Regions from separate parts of the Homo sapiens genome. Here region 1 is linked to region 2. Evidence: fine-mapped expression QTL. A gene starts in region 2. The other region holds a variant in brackets. All regions are shown on one strand. Distances are from middle to middle.

Evidence for each region. PIP is the estimated chance that this variant, and not a neighbour inherited with it, causes the effect. A credible set is the group of variants that fine-mapping cannot tell apart.
Region 1: its variant is the best candidate, but not a certain one, in a credible set for the expression of LINC02386 in sun-exposed skin (GTEx, PIP 0.75).

What each region holds. Positions count from the first base shown.
Region 1 is chr12:30,257,945-30,262,335 of GRCh38, reverse strand. The region is part of intron 2 of LINC02386 (long intergenic non-protein coding RNA 2386); the gene reads left to right. Among named protein-coding and RNA genes, the nearest start is that of LINC02386, 37 kb to the left of the region's middle. The variant G/C (reference allele first, on the strand shown) is at 2,378.
Region 2 is chr12:30,294,334-30,298,724 of GRCh38, reverse strand. It overlaps LINC02386 (long intergenic non-protein coding RNA 2386), which reads left to right and starts at 2,018. Exons shown (of 5, transcript NR_183469.1): 1 at 2,018-2,107.

The DNA.
Region 1 (4,391 bases), 36 kb after region 2:
TTTCAGAAGAGTTTGAGTAGGATTGGTATTAGTTCTTCATTAAATGTCTGGTAAAACTCAGCAGTAAAGTCATTGGGACCTAGGCTTTTTTTTGTTTGTTTGTTTGCTGGGAGACATTTTATTATGGCTTTGTTCTCATTATTTGTTACTGGTCTGTTCAGGTTTTGGATTTCTTCCTGGTTCAATCTGGTAGGTCATATGTATCTAGCAAGTGATCCATTTCTTCTAGATTTTCCATTTTATTGGCATATAGTTGCTCATAGTAGCCTCAAATGATCCTTTGATTTGTGTGACATTGGTTTTAATGTCTCCTTTCTCATCTCTGATTTTTTTGTTTTTTTTTTCTTAACTAGTCTGACTAAAGATTTGTCAATGTTGTTTACATTTCAAAAAAAAGCTTTTCTGTTTCGTTGATCTTTGTATCATTTTGTTTCAATTTTATTCATTTCTGTTCTGATCTTTATTATTTCTTTCCTTCTACCGATTATTGGTTTGGTATGCTCTTGCTTTCCTAGTTCTTTAGGATGCTTTGTTAGGTTGTTTACTTGAAGTTTTTCTTCTTTTTTTGATGTAGGCACTTATAGCTATAAAGTTCCCTCTTGGTACTGTTTTTGCTGTATCCCATAGGTTTTGGTATGTTGTGTTTCCATTATCATTTGTTTTAATACATTTTTCAATTCCCTTCTTAATTTCTTCATTGACCTACTAGTCATTCAGGAGCATATTATTTAATTTCCATGCATTTGTGTAGTTTCCAAAATTCTTCTCGTTATTGATTTCTAGTTTTATTACACTGTCATCAGATAATATGCTTGATATTATTTCAGTTTTTGAATGTTTTAACACTTTTTTATGATATAATATGTGGTCTATTTTTGAGAATGATCCATGTGCTGCGGAAAAGAAAATGTAATCTGTAGCTGTTTGATGAAATGTTTTGTAAATATATATTAGGCCCATTTGTTCTATAGTGCAGATTAAGTCCAGTATTTCTTTTTTGATTTTCTGTCTGGGAGACATGTCCAGTGCTGATGGTTGGGAGTTGAAGTCTCTCTCTAGCTATTATTTTACTGGGGTCTCTCTCTCTCTTTAGCTCAACCAATATCTGCTTTATATATCTGGATGCTCCAGTTGGGTGCATATGTGTTTACAATTGTTATATCCTCTTGCTGAGTTGACCCCTTTATCATTATATAGTGACTTTCTTTGCCTCTTCATGTAGTTTTTGTCTTGAAATCTATTTTGTCTTATATAGGTATAGCTACTCCTACTCTTTTTTGGTTTAATTGGCATGAAATACCTTTTTCCATCTCATTATTTTCAGTCTATGTGTATCTTTACAGGTGAAGTGTTTTTCTTGTAGGCAACATATTGTTGGGTCTTTTTTTTAATCCATTCAGCCACTTTATGTATTTTATTGAAGAGTTTAGTCCATTTACATCCAATGTTATTATTGATAAGTAAGGACCTACTCTTGTCATTCATTATGCTATTTGTTTTCTGTTTTGTGTGTGTGTGTGTGTGTGTGTGTGTGTGTGTGTGTGTAATCTTTTCTTCCTCCTTTCCTTCCTTCCTGTCTTCCTTTTAGTGAAGGTAATTTTCTGTGGTGGTATGTTTTAATTTCTTCCTTTTTATTATTTTTTATCTGTTGTTTTTTGATTTGAGGTTACCATGAGGCTTGCAAATACTCTTTTATAACTCATTATTTTAAACTGATGACAAGTTAACACTGATTTCATAAACAGACAAGCAAAAAGAAAACAAAATGCTTCACTTTAACTTCATCCTCTGCTTTTTAACTTATTGTTGTTTCTTTTCATATATTTGAAATTTTGTTTTTAATTTTTTACTTTTTTTTGATGAGGTTTCACTATGTTGCCCATGCTGGTCTCCAACTCCTGAACTCAAGCAATTCTCCTGTCTCAGCCTCTCAAAATGCTGGGATTACAGGTGTGAGCCACTGTGCATGGTTATATTTATATGCTATTTTATTATGTCTTGAAAAGTTGTCGTAGTTATTATTTTTATTGGTTCATCATTTAGTCTTTCTACTTAAGAGTAGCTTATACACAACAATTACAGTGTTATAATATTCTGTGTTTTTCTGTGTACTTACTATTATCAGTGAGTTTTGAATCTTCAGGTGATTTCTTGTTGCTTACTAATGTCCTTTTCTTTCAGATTGACAAACTCCCTTTAATATTTTTTGTAAGTCAGGATTGGTGTTGAGGAAATCCCTCAGCTTTTCTTTGTCTGGGAAAGTCATTATTTCTCCTTTATGTTTGAAGGATATTTTCACTGGATATGGTATTCTAGAGTAAAAGTGTTTTATCTTCAGCACTTTAAATATTCAATGCCACTCTCTTCTGGCCTGCAA[G/C]GTTTTCACTGAAAAATTTTCTGCCAGATGTGTTGAAGCTCCATTGTATGTTATTTATGTTATTTGTTTATTTTCTCTTCCTGCTTTTGGAATCCTTTCTTTATCCTTGATCTTTGGGAGTTTGATTATTGAATGCCTAGAGGTAGTCTTTGGGTTAAATCTGCTTGGTGTTTTATAGCCTTCTTGTACTGGGTTTGGGAAGTTCTCTGTTATTATCTCTTTGAATAAACTGTCTACCCTTATCTCTTTCTCTACCTCTTCTTTAAGGTCAATAACTCTTGGATTTGCCTCCCTTGCCTCCCTTGAGGCTATTTTTTACATCTTGTAGGTGTGCATCATTCCTTTTTATTCCTTTTTCGTTTGTCTCCTCTAACTGTATTTTCAAATAGACTGCCATCGAGCTCACCAATTCTTTCTTCTGCTTGATCAATTCTGCCATTAAGAGACTCTGATGCATTCTTCAGTATGTCAATTGCATTTTTCCACTCCATAATTTCTGCTTTATTCTTTTTTATTATTTCAATCTCTTTGTTAAAATTATCTGATAGGATTCTGAATTCCTTTTCTGTGTTATCTTGAATTTCTTTGAGTTTCCTCAAAACAGCTATTTCGAATTGTCTGAGAGGTTACATGTCTCTGTTTCTCCAGGATTTGTCTCTGGTGCCTTATTGAATTCATTTGGTAAGGCTGTGTTTTCTTTGGTCATGTTGATGTTTGTGGATATGTGTCAGTGTCTGGGCATTAAAGAGTTATGTATTTATTATAGTCTTTGCAATCTGGGCTTCTTTGTACTCATCCTTCTTGGGAAGGCTTTTCAGATATTCAAATGGATTTGGGTGCTGTGATCTCAGCTATATCTGCATTAGGAGGTATCTCAAGTCTAGTGTTGCCGTGCTTCTTGCAGACTCCTAGAGGTGTGGCCTTGGTGGACTTGGATAAGAGCCAGAAGAATTCTCTGGATTACCAGGCAGAGACTCTTGTTCTCTTCCCTTACTTTCTCCCAAACAAATGGAGTCTCTCTCTCTCTCTCTTTGTACTGAGCCACCTAGAGCTGGAGGAGAGGTGACACAAGCTCCCCTGTGGTCACCACAACTGGGACTGTTCTTGGTCAGACCCAAAACCAGCATAGCACTGAGTCTCACCCAAGGCCCACAGTAACCACTGCCTGGCTACCACTTATGTTTGATCAAGGCCCCAGGGCTCTACAATCAACAGATGGTGATTCCAGCCAGGTTTGTGTACTTCACTTCAGACCAGCAAGTTCCTCAGGGCCCCAGGTAAGTCCAGAGATGCCATCTAGAAGCCAGGGACTGGAGTAAAAATCTTAGAAATCTACCTGGTTCTCTATTCTACTTCTGCTAAGCTGGCACTCAAACCACAAGACAAAGGTCTTTTCCCTTTCCACAGGCAAAGGAGCCTCTTGCCACAGGCCACCACTAACAAAGAGCCACTGGGAGTACTGCCCAGCTACTGCTGATGTTCACTTAAGGCCCAAGGGCTCATTAGTCAGCTGGTGGTGAATGCTGCCAGATCTGGGACTAACCTTTCAAGACATTGGGCTCCCCTCTGGCCCAAGGCATGTCCAGAAATAACATCCGAGGCCCAAAGCCTGTAATCAGGGACCCAAGATCCTGCTTGGTGCTGTACCCTACTGTGGCCAACCTGACACCTAAGGTGTGAGACAAAGTCCCTTTTACTTTCCCTGTTTTCTCAACAGAATAAGTCTCTCACCATAGCCACCACAGCTGGAAATGTGTTGGGTCGCACCTGAAGCCAGCATGTCTTAGAGTCTTATGCAAAGCCTGCAGTATACTACCTGGGCATCACTGCGAATTATTTAGAGCCCCCAGGCTCTTTTGTCAGCAGATGATGAATTCTGCTAGGACTGGGTCCTTCCATTCAAGGCACTGGTTTCCTTTCTGGCCCAGTGTTTGTCTAGAAATGTCTGGGAGGTAGTGCCTGAACTGGGGGCCTCATGACTCTGACAGGTCCCTATCATCCTGTAGCTGAGTTG
Region 2 (4,391 bases):
AAGTGCAGCCATTCCATTTTCTCTTACATAGTTGGAATCAGTGCCTACTGAATCCTATCTGCAAATGTATAGAAGCAATATGCAAAAATTTGTGACAAAAATTGGCAAAGGGAGACCTTTTGCAGGTGAAAGACAGCTAACACCTAGTGGCTAGCAGAGGGCTGTGTGGGGGTGGGGGCACAGGTAAGAGCTGAAGCAGAGGTGTGGAGGGATTGGGTGGTGTCTTCAGCACTGATGGAAGATGTTGGGGTCTTCCTCCTTCTCTGCTTTCCAAAGTAGGAGTAGCCATTGAAGCAGTAGAGAGACTCAGGGGCTCTTTGGTTTTTTTCTACCATGGAGGTTTCTTCAGAGCTGGAGTGAGGGTGGAATTTATTAGCCTCCCTACAGGCTGTTCCAGGTGCCCCCACATCTGGTGCTGAGAATGAGTGTGAGAGGGCACCCAGGACCTCCGACCTCCTTATGCCATTACATTCACATCAAACTGTGCCACGTTATCATTTACTTCCAATTAAAATATTTTAATTTTCCTCCTGGGAGGTTAAGTTTTGTGGGTTTTACTTTTCTACAATCCCTCCCTATCATAAAACCATTTAAACTTTAAGTCTTAACATTGGAAGGTTCTCTAGTGATCATCTGCTCCAATCTCTTCATTTTATGCATTGGAGACCAAGACATGAAGAAATGGCTCATCCCAGTTCAGAGACCTAGACTCTAAATCACTCATACCACCTCTCTGAGTGACACTACTCATTGGATAACAGAACTTCAGCAATCTAGGTGCCACTTGAGATATCATGGGAGCAGAAAATACTTGTGCTCTTTTAAAGGGTAAAGAGTTATTTTGTAAATACATACCCTGTCATTTCTAGGAAATTGTGTGGGCTTAGGGACCTCACTGGCTCCTAATTAGGTGTTTTTTAAAAAGCCAGGCCATTGGGCAGGACTCAGTGGTTGCTCTTAGACTTGTAAATAACTTTTAGGCTGTCCCAAACTTTCCAGTTTTGTGATTATTCTACCCTCTGTTCATAGGTAATGATGCTATTGGAAGTTATGGGGAAGAAGAGAAAGAAGGGAATTAGCAGGATGGGGTGTACGGGAATAGAGATAAACGTTTATTGAGCACTAACTCTATTCTTGACATTGTGGTTAGTGTGTTACCCAATATTATCCCCATTTTACCCATTGAGGAAATCAAGGTTTAGAAACATTGAGTAATTTGCTCAAAGTCTCACAGCTAGCAAGTAAGAAGTCTGAGATTTCAAACTTCGGGCTTTCTGATTTCAGGGCCCAAGCTTGTCACCATTATACTCATGGGGGCAATGGTAGAGCCAGATTTCCAGGAAACTCCTCTTACATCCCACTGTCTGGGTAACTGGACTTGATGGGATTTTTGGCATCACAGTGGAAGAAAGGCCAGGAAAGAAGGACGGCAGTTTCCTTTGTTGGTCAGAACTTGCCTCATCTTGCCTACATCTTCTTGGGGCTGACAGATAGGAAGCCTTCCAGCAGGTGTGGCCTAAGGGTGTTGGGGCTTTACTTTTGTGCTGGTGCAGGCAGTTTCCAGGCTCAGATAAACACTCAGCTGTTTATTTATCCATCCAGCAAGCATTTCTTAAGACACCTCCTCAGTCAGTTCTTGAGCCAATAAGCAAGCATGGTCCCTGACCCAATAAATCTAGCTCAGATTCAGAGATGCATAACCTGATTCCAGCAAAGCTTTTTGTGGATTATCTGGGGCAGTGTTTGTAACCTTTATCTTTCCCACTTCTCAGCTGTCGCTTTACCAACAGGAGCCTCTACCTTTGCGGAGTTGGGAAAAGACAAACAGGTGGGCTGCTGGGCGCTTGGGCTGAAGCTGTGGGGAAGGATATGGAAACCAAAGCCTAACAAGAGATCTTATGAAAATCTGCTCTTTCCTCTCTCCCTGCAGTTCTGTTTCCTTAAGCTAGGCTTACAATCGAAGGGCCAGCTGTTCACTTTACAATCTATCCCAGCATCCTCAGCTCCAATAACTGCCAGTTGATGCTTGCCTGTCCCAGTGGAATTAATGGAAGCTGTCAACAGCCCGCCCCCGACCTCACTGGATATAACTGTGTCCTCGGCAGACGTGAGTTCCTCCTGCTTCTGAGACAGCCTCCTTCCTCTCTTAGGAAACCCTCTCATGGGCCATTTATTCGCGTCAGTGTCAACTTAAAAGCAAGAGGCAAGGCACAAAATCTAACTTAATTTACTTAAGCCAGAGTGAGGACAGCTGCCTGGAAGACCCTTGAGAGGGGGTGATTCAGAGGATGTCAGACCTGGGCATCTGGGGCTCATTGCAATTGCACCAATTGTACTCACTTTTGTTATATTTCCAAAAGACTCAATGAGCTTCTTAGGGGGCTCAGCACTGATCTCAGGTGGAAGGAATGGGGATGGATGGGAGGGGCTGGGATGGGGGGAATAGGGAGCAGGGAGTGGGTCCCTGTTTCCTTTCCCTAGGCTCTCTGTCACTTTTTTTCTCAGTAAGTGGGAGATTCATGTGCTCTATACCTCCACAGTCTGCTGTGAACCTGTTGCTGGCATGAATCTGTCCGCTGGAGTTTGTTCGGTTGGGGGCCATGAGACAGTTGTAAAGGGAGCAACCATTGTGAAATGGCATCTTTCAGAATGCAGGAGTGAGGTGCCGTCACAAACCACGGCTTCTGTGGACAGGGTGTCTAGGGGTGGCTTGGGAAGAAGGCCCAGGGATAGAAGGAGAGAACTGAGGCCCTCTTTCAGCTCAACTTCAGCCTGGAGAATTTAGATCATTGCTTTAGCTCTAAATCACCACTTCCACACTTGGATGATTTCAAGGGACCTTAAGTTCCCACTTGCCACAGGCTTTGGGACATGGAGCCTGCTTTCTAAAATAAATATTTTTGAGTTTTTTAAGATGTAAGTTCAAACCTGCTACTGAAAAGGATTGGTTAAAAGAGACAACTCCCACTCCACTGCCGTGGCTTTCCATCAGGGCCATGCTTGGCAGAACCTGGGAGTTGAAAGGGAAGAGATGATGATCCATGTCTTGAGTTCCTGCAGACTGGAAGCAAGTGGAGCTGGGCTTGGGGAGCAGAAGGAACTGTTCTGCTTCATGGAGAAGCAAGTGGTAGTGACGGAAGTACCTGTTTCAGTGACTGCACTTTGAAATTGGATGGAGACCCAAATCCTTAATTCAGGGCTTCCTTCTGGGCTGGTGCAATCTGTAATTTTGGCAGGAATGAGAAGGGCAGGCTGGAGTGAAAAAAAGTCAAAAGTGGGAGTGTAGTGGCTCACCCTGCTTCCAGCCCTCCCTGACCTGTCGTTTGCAGACCCCTACACATTTAGAGCCTGTGTATCAGTCAGGATCTCTCAGGACCACAGAGACCCTCTCACAGCGTTACCTTCAGCAGTTGGGATTTATCGTAAGGATATTTCTGAAACTAGGAGACCAACAAACCTCAGGGTTCCATAAACACTGAGGGCAGATTGGCCTCCAGAGCCTGGAGTAGCACTCCGGGTGTCCAGTGGTTCTGGGGATCTGGTCATTTCGCCAGCTCCAAATATTCACAGTGACACACCACTGGTTTGTAGACAGACCCAGCTTCTTCAGGTAGATGTTGTGGTCCTTGTGCCTTTTATGGTTGACCTTGTTCATACCTTCCTTATTTTTCAGAAGGAGGAGCATTGTTCATGTTCACCCTCCTATTGTGCCAGTGGTGCAGTAAGTTTTGAAGGTCTCGTAGCCAATTCCAGATTTTTTTTTTCTTTTCGACAACCTTAAAAAGTGGTGCTTTTTCTTTCCAGGGCTTTGATCCAGAGGCTTTGACAAGGCTACTGCTCATCCAACTCAGCCAGAAAGTAGGGTAAACTGAGCGCTAATATCTGAGACAACTTTTTCAGGGTGGTATCGAATGAAGACTGGATAGGTTCCAGAGAATCATTCTTCACATACTAAAGAGCTGAAAACAGAAGGAGCTCAACAACTCAGACTCCAGATCTTTCAGACAATGGCTCACAAGATTTCCCTTGCTTCTTGGGTTCCTCTCTAGCTCGCCATCCACTGGTGATCTTGTTGATGTATCTGTTTGGTTACTTCCTGACTCCCCACCGCCCCATATCCGTGGCCAGAAGAAAGCTCAGGAGCAAAGCTCAGGAGTACTGTCTGCCTTGTTTGTCACCAGTGTGACTAGCACAGTGTGTGACACAGCAGGCGAACAAAATGAACCAGTTGTGGAATAAATCTCTCACCTGCTTTCAACTCACCCCTAAGATCCCTGTCTATGAGCACTTTACCCTACTCTAGCAGGTGGTTTGGTGCCCTGTCCAGACCTGAGGTTTCAGATTCCTTCCCTTTGTTTATTTTTTTGTTTTTGTTTTTGTTTTTTTTTACA